Linked DNA regions of Homo sapiens. The protein of the gene in region 2 interacts with the protein of the main gene of each other region in a biochemical or structural test. Each region holds a gene or a part of one and is shown on either strand. Other genes may lie near its edges.

Region 1 (3,754 bases), on a different chromosome or scaffold from region 2:
TAGCTTTGCTGACTACATCCAATCGTTATTAGAGATTGTAAAAATGCCTGAAAGAACCCTGGACTAAAAAGCAGAAGAATAGTCATAATCCTAACTCTCCAACAGGGTAATAGTTATGCATCTCTGAGTCTCAGTTGACTTAACTGCCTGCTTACACCACATAGGTAACTGTATCGTTAACATTAAAGCACCACAGCTCTTGGCTCAGTGCTGGTAACCAGTAGACACTCAATTAAATAAACAGATAGAAAAACCTTACTTAGAAACATATTCAGACAAAATAAAGTAGAAAAAGTAATAAATATCTTAAAAAAAAAAACCCATCACCACTATTCTGGGCAAAAATAATATTTTCTGGCCGGGCGTGGTGGCTCATGCCTATAATCCCAGCATTTTGGGAGGCCGAGGCAGGCAGATCACAAGGTCAGGAGATCAAGACCATCCTGGCTAACACGGTGAAACCCCTTCTCTACCAAAAATACAAAAAAATTAGCCAGGCGTGGTGGCGGGTGCCTGTAGTCCCAGCTACTTGGGAGGCCGAGCCAGGAGAAGGGCATGAATCCGGGAGGCAGAGCTTGCATGAGCCTAGATCACACCACTGCACTCCAGCCTGGGCAACAGAGCAAGACTCCGTCTCAAAAAAAAGAAAATAATAATAGTAATAATAATACTTTCTTTGTGGAAAGAATTATCTGTATCTGTTCCCATCCTGTGTGTCCCAAACTAAGTTCTGTTGCTTAGGGACATGGGCAGCTGATAGTCCACAGCTGCAAAAAAACAAAGGCATAAACCTTATTTTAATAAACCGACAACAGAAATGTAGTGCTATTAAATGAAATAGTAAACTAAATTATATACAAAAGAATGTTTCCAGTTTCAGAGCCCAGTTTATTTATTTATTTTTTTGAGACACAGTCTCATTCTGTTGCCCAGGCTGGAGTACAGTGGCGCGATCTCAGCTCACTGCAACCTCCACCTCCCAGGTTCAAGTGATTACAGGCGCCTGCCACCAAGCCCGGCTAATTTTTTTCTGTATTTTTAGTAGATACGGGGTTTCACCATGTTGGCCTGGCTGGTCTCGAACTCCTGACCTCAAGTGATCTGCCCTCCTCGGCCTCCCAAAGTGCTGGGATTACAGGCATGAGCCACCACCTCTGGCCTCAGAGCCCAGTTTAAAAGGTTTGATCTTTCCAACAGACTCATTTATAATCATTAAGTAGAGACCATATTTTGTTTTGTAATTTGAAACTTCCTAAATAATGGATTGATAGAAACTAAAGTCACTCAATTTTAAATGTAATAACTATAATAAAACAGATATACTCACAGCTTGCATTTCTATACAGAAGAAATGGTTCATGGAGCTGAAATTCCAAATCTTTATTCACTGGTTCAACTAGATTGTGCATATTTAGTCGATTCACAATGGTAAAACCATGGTAAGGGGAAGCTGACCTTAGATTTAATAGAAGAAAAAAAAATATGTAGTTACCATTTAATCTGTAGAAATGTTATCTACTATGTACTTTATTTTCATTTCAAAAAAGAATGCATTAGAACATTATACAATATTATCAGCACTTACATCTGTAAACAAAAAATTTAAGTCAGATCATACTCCTCCTCTGACGAGAAGTCTCCAAAGACAGTCTCTCAGAGTAAAGGCCAAAGTCCTTACTGAGGCCACCAAGGCCCCACCTGATATACTCCCCACTCTGACTTCATTTCCTATGGCTCTTCTCCAGCTCCTACTCTCCAGCCACACCGGGCTCCTTGCCACTCTCTCTGCGTGTGTGCTTCTACCTAAAAACCTCTTCCTGGATTACTGCCCCAGAAGCTGCACAGCTATCTCATCTCCTCCAAGCCTTTGTTCAGATGTCACCTTTTTCATGAGGCCTACTTGAACTATCCTTTTTAATGCTCCCAAGCTCAATATCTCTAACCTTCCTCTTTTATCCATACCACTTATTTTTAGTATTTATTGTCCTCCCCCCACTAGGATGTAAGCCCCATGCAAATGGAGCTTTTGTCTTACTTTTTTCATACATATATCCCAAGATAGACACACAGTTGCTGAATGAAATATCATTCAATTGGATTGGCTATAATGGCTGCCCATCATTACAATAATGTTTTTCTTGCAACAAATAGATATTTACATAGCGCTCCTGAGTTAGACGGAAAATGCCTTGAATCCTACAATAGGAAACATCCTTGGTTCCCATATCAGAGGGATTCGGTACATGATCCTTTACTCTTCACATGTACCTAACACTTCACCGTTTTTCATTTGTTTCTCTACGATATACCCGGGGTGTTAACAGAACACTATTCTATAGATTAGGAGACAAGCTTTGAATGATAAGGCCTGTGCCTGAGGTCACACAAATAATGAGTTACAAATAATATAACTAGGATTCAGTTTCAGGTTTTTTGACTCCAAATCCAAGCTTCTACTATATGAAGTAATAGCTGCAAAGTGACAGTCTGACATCCTGGTATACCTTTATCCAAGGTACGCAAAATAGTCTCACATTTTCCAAACACAGTTTCTTGCGTCTCCTTTAATTAGAATCAGTACCATATAAGCCTCCGTGAATTGTATTAAATCCAGCCACCCACTACACTAAATCTCCTACTTTCTACAATCAGTGCCTCTGTATGATAACAATAAAGCCAGTAAAGTACTTTTACCAAATATCATAGAAACTAAGGTTCTAATAACAGAGTTTCTAGAGATTTATATTGCTAATGAAGAGTAATGAAGGGAGTGAGGGTAAAGATCCTTTCCTATTAATTTATTTATTTTTTATGAGAGGGAGTCTCGCTCTGTCACCCAGGCTGGAGTGCAGTGGCACGACCTCGGCTCACTGCAAGCTCCGCCTCCTGGGTTCACGATATTCTCCTGCCTCAGCCTCTCAAGTAGCTGGGACTACAGGTGCCTGCCACCATGCCCAGCTAATTTTTTGTATTTTTAGTAGAGACAGGGTTTCACCGTGTTAGCCAGGATGGTCTTGATCTCCTGACCTCGTGATCCGCCCACCTCGGCCTCCCAAAGTGCTGGGATTACAGGCGTGAGCCACTGCACCCGGCCGATCCCTTCCTTTTTAAAAGCAGAAAGATGAATAGCAGGGAACAAAGAAAGTGTCTAAGAAAAAAGAGCTTGGTGTACAAATATCAAAGAATTACACTTAAAAGAAGAAAAAAATGAGTGCATTTAGACGAGATCTCAAAGCTTTGTATCAAAATTTAGAAGAGTATTTGACAAATTCTTTTAAATTGGCATCAATGGAGAAAGGCAATCCTTATGAAGCAACTCAATACAAAAAAAAAAGGGAAAAGACCAGATATCAGTAATAACTCCTGCTGACTCCCTAAGCTTTAGAAAACAAGGGAAGGAACCTGCCCTTGTAAGAGTTAAGACCTTAGAGGAATCCAGGAAAACAAGTACCCCATGACTATCATATACTGTCAGTTGTCTTTAGGCCCCAAAAGCTGCCTAACAAAAAAGTTGCAATTTGCAAACCAATCTTAAAGATAATGAATTTTTGAATAAGTCAAAAATAAAAAATACGCCATCATGAATAATCCAAGCTTTCTAAAGAACTCTCAAATAAGACACTGTACATAATCCAGAACTTCTGTGGGTTGGGAAAGAGGACAGAACCAGTCATAAAAGACAACCACTCATGTAGTAATGAAAGAACAGAGGGATCGACCTCTCAATAACATTATTTTACAGAGCCAGTCTATG
Region 2 (3,754 bases):
CATGATATTAAGCTGCTTTCAAAACCAAATGAGTTAAGTTCTTGATATCTTCGTCTACAGAAACTGTTTACTTACGAAATTTCATAATGTAGTTAACAAAAAAGTCATTTTTGTTACAGTTTTAAATTATTTTTTGCTAAATCAAATTCTGAAATTTAGATATTGTATCTTTTTCTAAAGGCAAACAGTAAAGAAAAAAAGAAAAATCAGCCAGCTGAGGGGCCATATTTAAAAATCCAGAGCAGTGCTGTCCAGTAAAACTTCTATAATAAAGGAAATATTTGTGTCTGTACTTCCAATTCCAATACACTATCCAGTAGCAACAGGTGCCTAACTGAGCACTTGAAATGTGGCTGTGATTGAGAAACTGACTTTTTATTTTAATTTTAACTGATTTAAATTGCCACATGTGGCTATTTACTGTATTAAACAGAGAATTAAACATGGAAAGGAAGGGAAGAATAAAATTTTACATTTGTATCATGCCTGACAGCTTCCAAAGTACTCATTTAAACATTTATCTTAATTTTCCTAACAACCTTGTAAGTTATGAATATGTACTATTATCCCTATTTTATTGCTAGAAAATTGAACCTGAGGGAGGTCAAAATGAAAGGTCCTTTGGCTACTAAGGAACAGTTTATTCTTAAACTCAGGACATTTAAAAGAACATTAAAACAAAATAAAGAAAGAGATTTCTTATTAAATTTGTGCAAGTTCTAGTTTTATACTCACCTGCCTCATTTTAGCATGAATATAGAAGCAAGAATAACCCAGTTGAGAAATCTTCTTGGCTAGCAATTCAACTCGCTGAGAGGAGTTACAGAAAATGATCGACTGGTTTATCTGAAGCTGAGCACAGAAAAAAATAAGTATGAGAAAAATAAAAAAAACCTTCATTTGGTTTGCCAAATCTTGAAAACACGAACCAGCAAAAAAGAAACATTAACATGGTCTAAAACTTAGAATCTCATGATATGAGAGAGATGGTAAATTGTAAAAATTGTAAATAATAGATGGAAGATAATAATATCTAAGATTTACCGTATTAGAGTATATTTCTTAAGGGCCACATAACTGTCAACAAGAGTAATACAATTGATTATCTGATTCAAAGTAGTTATGTTTTATGTGTTTCCATTTAAAAATATTTTATTTTATTTTTTTTTTGTGAAATGGAGTTTCACTCTTGTTGTCCAGGCTGGAGTGCAATGGTGCAATCTCAGCTCACTGCAACAGCTGCCTCCTGGGTTCAAACAATTCTCCAGCCTCAGCCTCTTGAGTAGCTGGGATTACAGGCACCCACCACAATGCCTGGCTAACTTTTGTATTTTTAGTAGAGACAGGGTTTCAGCCTGTTGGTCAGGCTGGTCTTGAACTCTTGACCTCAGGTGATCTGCCCACTTCGGCTTCCCAAAGTGCTGGGATTACAGGTATGAGCTACTGTGCCCAGCCAAGAATACCTTCTTTAATATACTCACAACCAATGCCACCAGCATTGGGCAGCACTTCAGCACCATGTGTAGGGGCCAATTAAAACTGTGAAATCAGCAACAAAAACTTGAAAAACATGGCAGACTGTGAAAAGGACCCTTGTTCACAGTATGAGAGCTAAACAAGAGGACAGAGATTGCTTTCTTCGACCTCAGCTGGGAATGTGCATGTCAGGTGACTTAAACTCTTTGCCACACTGTACACGTCCACAAATGACTGCTGAACTACCTTGAGTATTAATTCCGGAGTTACAAATAAATTCTAGTGACTAAGCAAATTCACAAATACAGAATATGTGAATAATGAGGATTAACCCTAGTTAAGGTCAAAGTATTTCAGAAACTATTCAAAAGTGTATCTGTGACTTGGTTAATCATTTAGTATCAACTTTAGGTCAACAACTAAACCTGCCTTTTAGGAAACACTATGAATTATTTTTTAATCTTTTTTTTTTTCTTCCCAAGACGGAGTCTTGCTCTGTCGCCCAGAGCTGGAGTGCAATGGTGCAATCTCAGCTCACTGCAGCCTCCGCCTCCTGGGTTCAAGCAATTCTCCTGCCTCGGCCTCCCAAGTAGCTGGGATTATGGGCACACGCCACCATGCCCAATTTTTTTGTATTTTGTAGTAGAGATGGGGTTTCACCATGTTGGCCAGGCTGGTCTCAAACTCCTGACCTCGTGATCTGCCTGCCTCAGCCTCCAAAGTGCTGGGAGGCATGAGCCACCGTGCCAAGCCAGAAACACTACGAACTTTTATACAGTGAAGACGGTGGGAAAATTGATGAAATCATCTGTTTTACTGGGACTCGAGAGATAATATTCAACAGCAGAAGCCTACTTCTTACCCTGGAGAAAAGTGTGTTGAGGCAGTGTACTTTTTGGCGCTCAGTTACATATGCGTAGTACTGGGTTACTCCCTTCAGAGTTAGTTCCTCCATCAGGTTAATCTCATAGGGTTTCTGCAAATGGGAATTCTGGGGGGGGAGCGGGAAAAAGATGAGTCGTCGTCTTAAATGAAAGCAGAGTTCATCTCAAATTCAAAATATACCCTATACGTTTCTGTCCGATAAACTCTTGCTGTAAGGGACGCAACTCTCTTCAAAACAAAATATATGATCTGTCATTACAGAATTTCCCCCCTGCCACCCTGAGACAAAATCTTGCTCTGTCACCCAGGCTGGAGTGTAGTGGCACGATCTCTGCTCCCTGCAACCTCCACCTCCCGGGTTCAAGTGATTCTCCTGCCTCGGCCTCCCGAGTAGCTGGGAATGCAGGCATGCACTGCCATAACAGACTAATTTTTGTATTTTTAGTAGAGACGGGGTTTCACCATGTTGCCCAGGCTGGTCTCGAACTCCTGACCTTGTGATCTGCCCGCCTCGGCCCCCCAAAGTGCTGGGATTACAGGCATGAGCCACCATGCCCGACCCGATAGAAATAAATTAAGATATAAGATCTCAAAAATGCAGCTAAGTTACTACAGGTTGAGTATTCCTTACCCAAAATGCTTAGGAACAGAAGTGTTTCAGGTTTTAAATTTTTTCTAATTTTGGAATATGTGCATTACACTTAGTGACTGAGCATCCTTAATTTGAAAATTCAAAATCCAAAGAACATTTCCTTTTAGCATCATGTTCGTGGCTCAAAAGGTTTCAAATTCTGCAGTATTTTGGATTTCAGTTTAGGATACTCAAGCTCTGTTTTGTATATAGAATAATACCGGAATCAATTCAGCTAGCACCAATGGCTATGTCATCATGACACCAAAAACTAAGTGAAAGATGAGGAATTTAATTAAGTTACTATTACAACCTTCTTAAAAAGTCAGTTAATTTACGTAAAACAAATCTTTAATTGATCAACTGAAGAAAGAGCCAAAGGCTTGAAATAATTAGCATAAAGTATATTCACAGATATGAAGATGTAATTACAAATAAAAGCATACTCAAAGGTCACAGGATGGCACTGATTCCAAGTACAGATTTATACTCACCATGAACTTCTGTACACTAAGAGGGAAAGTAGCGGAATATAGTAAAATCTGCCTGTTTTTAGGTAGCGTGAGAATAATATCCTCCATTATCTGCACAAAATCCTGTGACAGCAACTTATCTGCCTGCAGTAGAAAGAAAAGACAATTTTAAAAACAATAAAATAATGTCTAAGGTCTTGGTTAATACATGGTCAAAGAATAAGGCATCATCCAACAAAAGCATCCATGAAATGTTCCTGGTGGAAAACAATAAATTCTCTCCAACACT
Region 3 (3,754 bases), on a different chromosome or scaffold from region 2:
TTTATCTGTTTTGTAATATATAACATTCTAAAATCATTCATTTTATTAATATTTTCAAATTTATTAATGGAAAATAAATTATAATTTTACAACTCTTCTAAATTAAAAAGGGAATGTATAATCTACCTTATTTAGAAAATGATTGAAAAATGATCTTTCACTTAATTTTAGAAATCTAGATATGATATTTTTAGATGTATATGTACTCTTCTCTACATTTATATATATATATATTTTTATATCCCCCCCCCCCGTGTTTTTTTTTTTTTTTTTTTTTTTTTTGAGACAGAGTCAACCTCTGTCACCCAGGCTGGAGTGCAGTGGGGCACGATCTCAGCTCACTGCAACCTCCACCGCCCGGGTTCATGCCATTCTCCTGCCTCACCCTCCTGAGTAGCTGGGACTACATATGCCATGGAATACAGAATTTTGTTTAATTTGACTCATTATATTTTACCCTTTTTATTCAGAAAAAGAGAGAGCTCCCCTCCCAAAATAAAATAACTGCCATACTATCTTTCATTGCCCTTCAAAACTCACCCCACCAAAGAGGTTCATTAACAGAACAGTGCATATTCTTCCCGATTTTTTTTGTAGATTTTACAGACACAGACATCTATACCCAAAACCTTTTTTTTTTTTTTTTTTTTTCCCCCTGGAGATAGAATCTCGCTCTGTCACCCAGGCTGGAGTGTAGTGGTGCGATCTCTGCTCACTGCAGCCTTTGCCTCCCGGGTTCAAGCCATTCTCCTGCCTCAGCCTCCTGGGTAGGTGGGATTACAGGCATACGCCACCACGCCTGGCTAATGTTTCTGTATTTTTAGTAGAGATGGGGTTTCACCTTGTTGGTCAGGCTGGTCTCGAGCTCCTGACCTCGTGATCCGCCCGCCCCGGCCTCCCAAAGTGCTGGGGTTACAGGCGTGAGCCACCGCGCCTGGCCCCAAAATATTTTTTTTTAAGACAGAAGGATCATGGTGTAATTCTGGCTTGTGGCCGAGGCATTTTTAATAGTAGAGGTGAATGTTTCAAACATCCTACTTATCTAGATTTATGTCTGGATATGCTGCTGTGGGGTTTTGTGGTTTGTTTTCTCAAACCCAGGCAGTTTGCCAAACCTCAGCAAACAGCGCAAACCTATCTTGTTACCCTGTAGTCACTTCTCATCCTTGTCAGTATGTGTGGAGCATTTCACGCAATTGTGATCATTAAACTCATACTGGTTTCTGTTCTGCGTTTTTCAGTTAACATCAAATATTCTTCCTCTGTTTTTTTCTTGTTAGTCATTTTTCTTGTGTTGGATATTTGGGTTCCCACGTTTTTCACTATAAATTATGCTGCTTTGTATTGCTTTATCATGTCTCTTATGATTGGCTGAAATTTTACTGTGTTATAGAGGAGAGAGAATGTGTAGATACAGGAAGGCTTGAATAATATAGAGCCATCTGGAGAGACACAGTAAAGATGGAGTAGGAAGTGTTTTGAGTCAGTAAGGATTGGTGCTTGTCTGTTTTTTATCTGTGATGTGGAAATAACACCTATTTTCTTGCAATTTGTGCCGATTAGTGTTTATTTTTCTTACTATAAATCTTGGTTCCTGTTATTCTTTCCATAAAAGGCTTTCTACATTTTGAGAACCCACTGTGTGTCTGGCACTTCAGTTTGCCGGTGTTGGGGATATAGCAGTAAGGAAAACAAAGCCCCTGACCTCAAGGAGCATACATTAATTTAGTGCAGAAGCCTCCACACTTGCCTGGCTGTATACTCTGTCAGTAACACATGTGAGTGTGGACTCCATAAATACAAATGTTTAGAAATTTTGTGTGAGCTATTCTCAGTCTACATATTAAATATTAGTGAAACTTAATTTTTTATTTTGTATAAAAAATACAAATACAATAAAATATATAGAGAGACCTGTAAGCATTTCTGTTGTTGACTGTTGAATCTAAAGAGCACAATAGCAACATCTGTGCTAAACCAGCTATTACATATTGAATGTCCTTTGTATATATTCTTTATTATCATAGCTCCAGGTGCTCCTTCAGCTCCAAGGAGAGGGCGTGGGGGTCATCGGGGTGGCAGGGGAAGATTTGGTATTCGGCGAGATGGGCCAATGAAATTTGAGAAAGACTTTGACTTTGAAAGTGCAAATGCACAATTCAACAAGGAAGAGATTGACAGAGAGTTTCATAATAAACTTAAATTAAAAGGTAAGCTTTGATTTTTCTTTTCAGAAAATAATCTTATTTGATCTGTGAATTACAGATGTTTCTCAGATTAGGTGTTTTTATGTAATTCAGATTAGCTGTCTTGACTTTTCTGATATGTGCTTTTGTTCTTAGAAGATAAACTTGAGAAACAGGAGAAGCCTGTAAATGGTGAAGATAAAGGAGACTCAGGAGTTGATACCCAAAACAGTGAAGGAAATGCCGATGAAGAAGATCCACTTGGACCTAATTGCTATTATGACAAAACTAAATCCTTCTTTGATAATATTTCTTGTGATGACAATAGGTACAGTTTTTAAGCTGTTCTTTTATCTTATGATATTGATTGAAGTGTAAAATGGTTTCATGTAAATTCACGAGGTTTAATGAATACTACCATAATTGTTTTGTTTTGTTTTGAGACAGTCTTACTCTGTTACTCAGGCTGGAGAGCAGCAGTGCAGTCACAGCTCACTGTAGTCTCAAGCTCCTGACCTCAAGCAATCCTCCCATCTCAGCCTCAGTAAAGGGGACTACAGTTGTACACCACCCCACCCGGCTAATTTTTTTCATTTTTTTGTAGAGATGGGGGTCTCGCTATGTTGCCCAGGCTAATCGTGAACTCCTGGCCTCAAGATCAGCCTCCCAAAGTACTAGGATTACAGGCGTGAGCCACCACACCTGGCCATAATTGATTTTTTAATGTTTTATTTGCTAAAAGAAAATATATACTAAAGTTCTAAATTATTCATTCAAAAGAAGAAATAACCATATACTTTTGTTTAAGGATATATTCATATTTGAATATTAGCAATTAAAACAAGCATTTAGGTAATGTCTAAGTAGGACCTTTTTTTCACCCCTGTATGTTACAGTTCAAATGAAGCCAGAACCGAAGTGCTAATCTACTTTGAAGTTTGCTGGTACCATAAAACTGCCAGATTGTAGTAAATGTGGGTCCAGAAAATTGGCAAATTATTGAGAGGTTAATTAAAGGACCCAGTGTGAGGAACTAACAGTTCTAGAGGTTCTCCTGCCCAATCCAAATTGTCATTGTCCTTGTCCTTTTCCTGGCTGAAGTTTGGTGCCCTCTGGTGGCAGTTGTTTGCTTCAATATAAACATGGATGGACATAATTCTGAGTCCCACGATTGGCTGGATGACAGCAGCAATAATTCAGATACTTCTTGGGTTACTTGGTATCGGGTCCATAGATTGGGCCAGGAACATAATGGGGACCTAAGGGCCCACCTTCCATCTCCTAGCTTCCCAAGACAAGGCCTCCCTGTCTGACTTTACCTTCTTTTCCCTTGGGGCTGAGTGGAAAGCGAAGTCAATTACCAATCTCATTATATCTGAATTTCCATTATTTTGGAGCTGTTACTATGTTTATCAGGTGTATTTGCAAGAAACTAATGTCAGTCATGTGTTCACATGAAGTTTAACAGAATATTACAGGAACATATTGAACTCATATGCCATGAACAACTCGTGATAACTTAGATAAGATGCTTTTTTTTTTTTTTTTTTGAGATGGAGTTTCGCTCT

The links.
Region 1: the proteins of DDX6 (region 2) and DCP1A form a complex in vitro, tested with the Homo sapiens proteins (one study listed by BioGRID).
Region 3: the proteins of DDX6 (region 2) and LSM14A are reported together in a solved structure, tested with the Homo sapiens proteins (one study listed by BioGRID).

Annotation. Positions count from the first base shown.
Region 1 is NC_000003.12:53,340,817-53,344,570, forward strand, and holds part of DCP1A (mRNA-decapping enzyme 1A), read right to left. Parts: intron 1,456-3,754; coding exon 1,328-1,455; intron 1-1,327. UniProt on the Homo sapiens protein: Necessary for the degradation of mRNAs, both in normal mRNA turnover and in nonsense-mediated mRNA decay. Removes the 7-methyl guanine cap structure from mRNA molecules, yielding a 5'-phosphorylated mRNA fragment and 7m-GDP.
Region 2 is NC_000011.10:118,756,436-118,760,189, forward strand, and holds part of DDX6 (probable ATP-dependent RNA helicase DDX6), read right to left. Parts: intron 3,610-3,754; coding exon 3,487-3,609; intron 2,468-3,486; coding exon 2,339-2,467; intron 853-2,338; coding exon 736-852; intron 1-735.
Region 3 is NC_000019.10:34,217,364-34,221,117, forward strand, and holds part of LSM14A (protein LSM14 homolog A), read left to right. Parts: intron 1-2,027; coding exon 2,028-2,210; intron 2,211-2,342; coding exon 2,343-2,514; intron 2,515-3,754. UniProt on the Homo sapiens protein: Essential for formation of P-bodies, cytoplasmic structures that provide storage sites for translationally inactive mRNAs and protect them from degradation. Acts as a repressor of mRNA translation. May play a role in mitotic spindle assembly.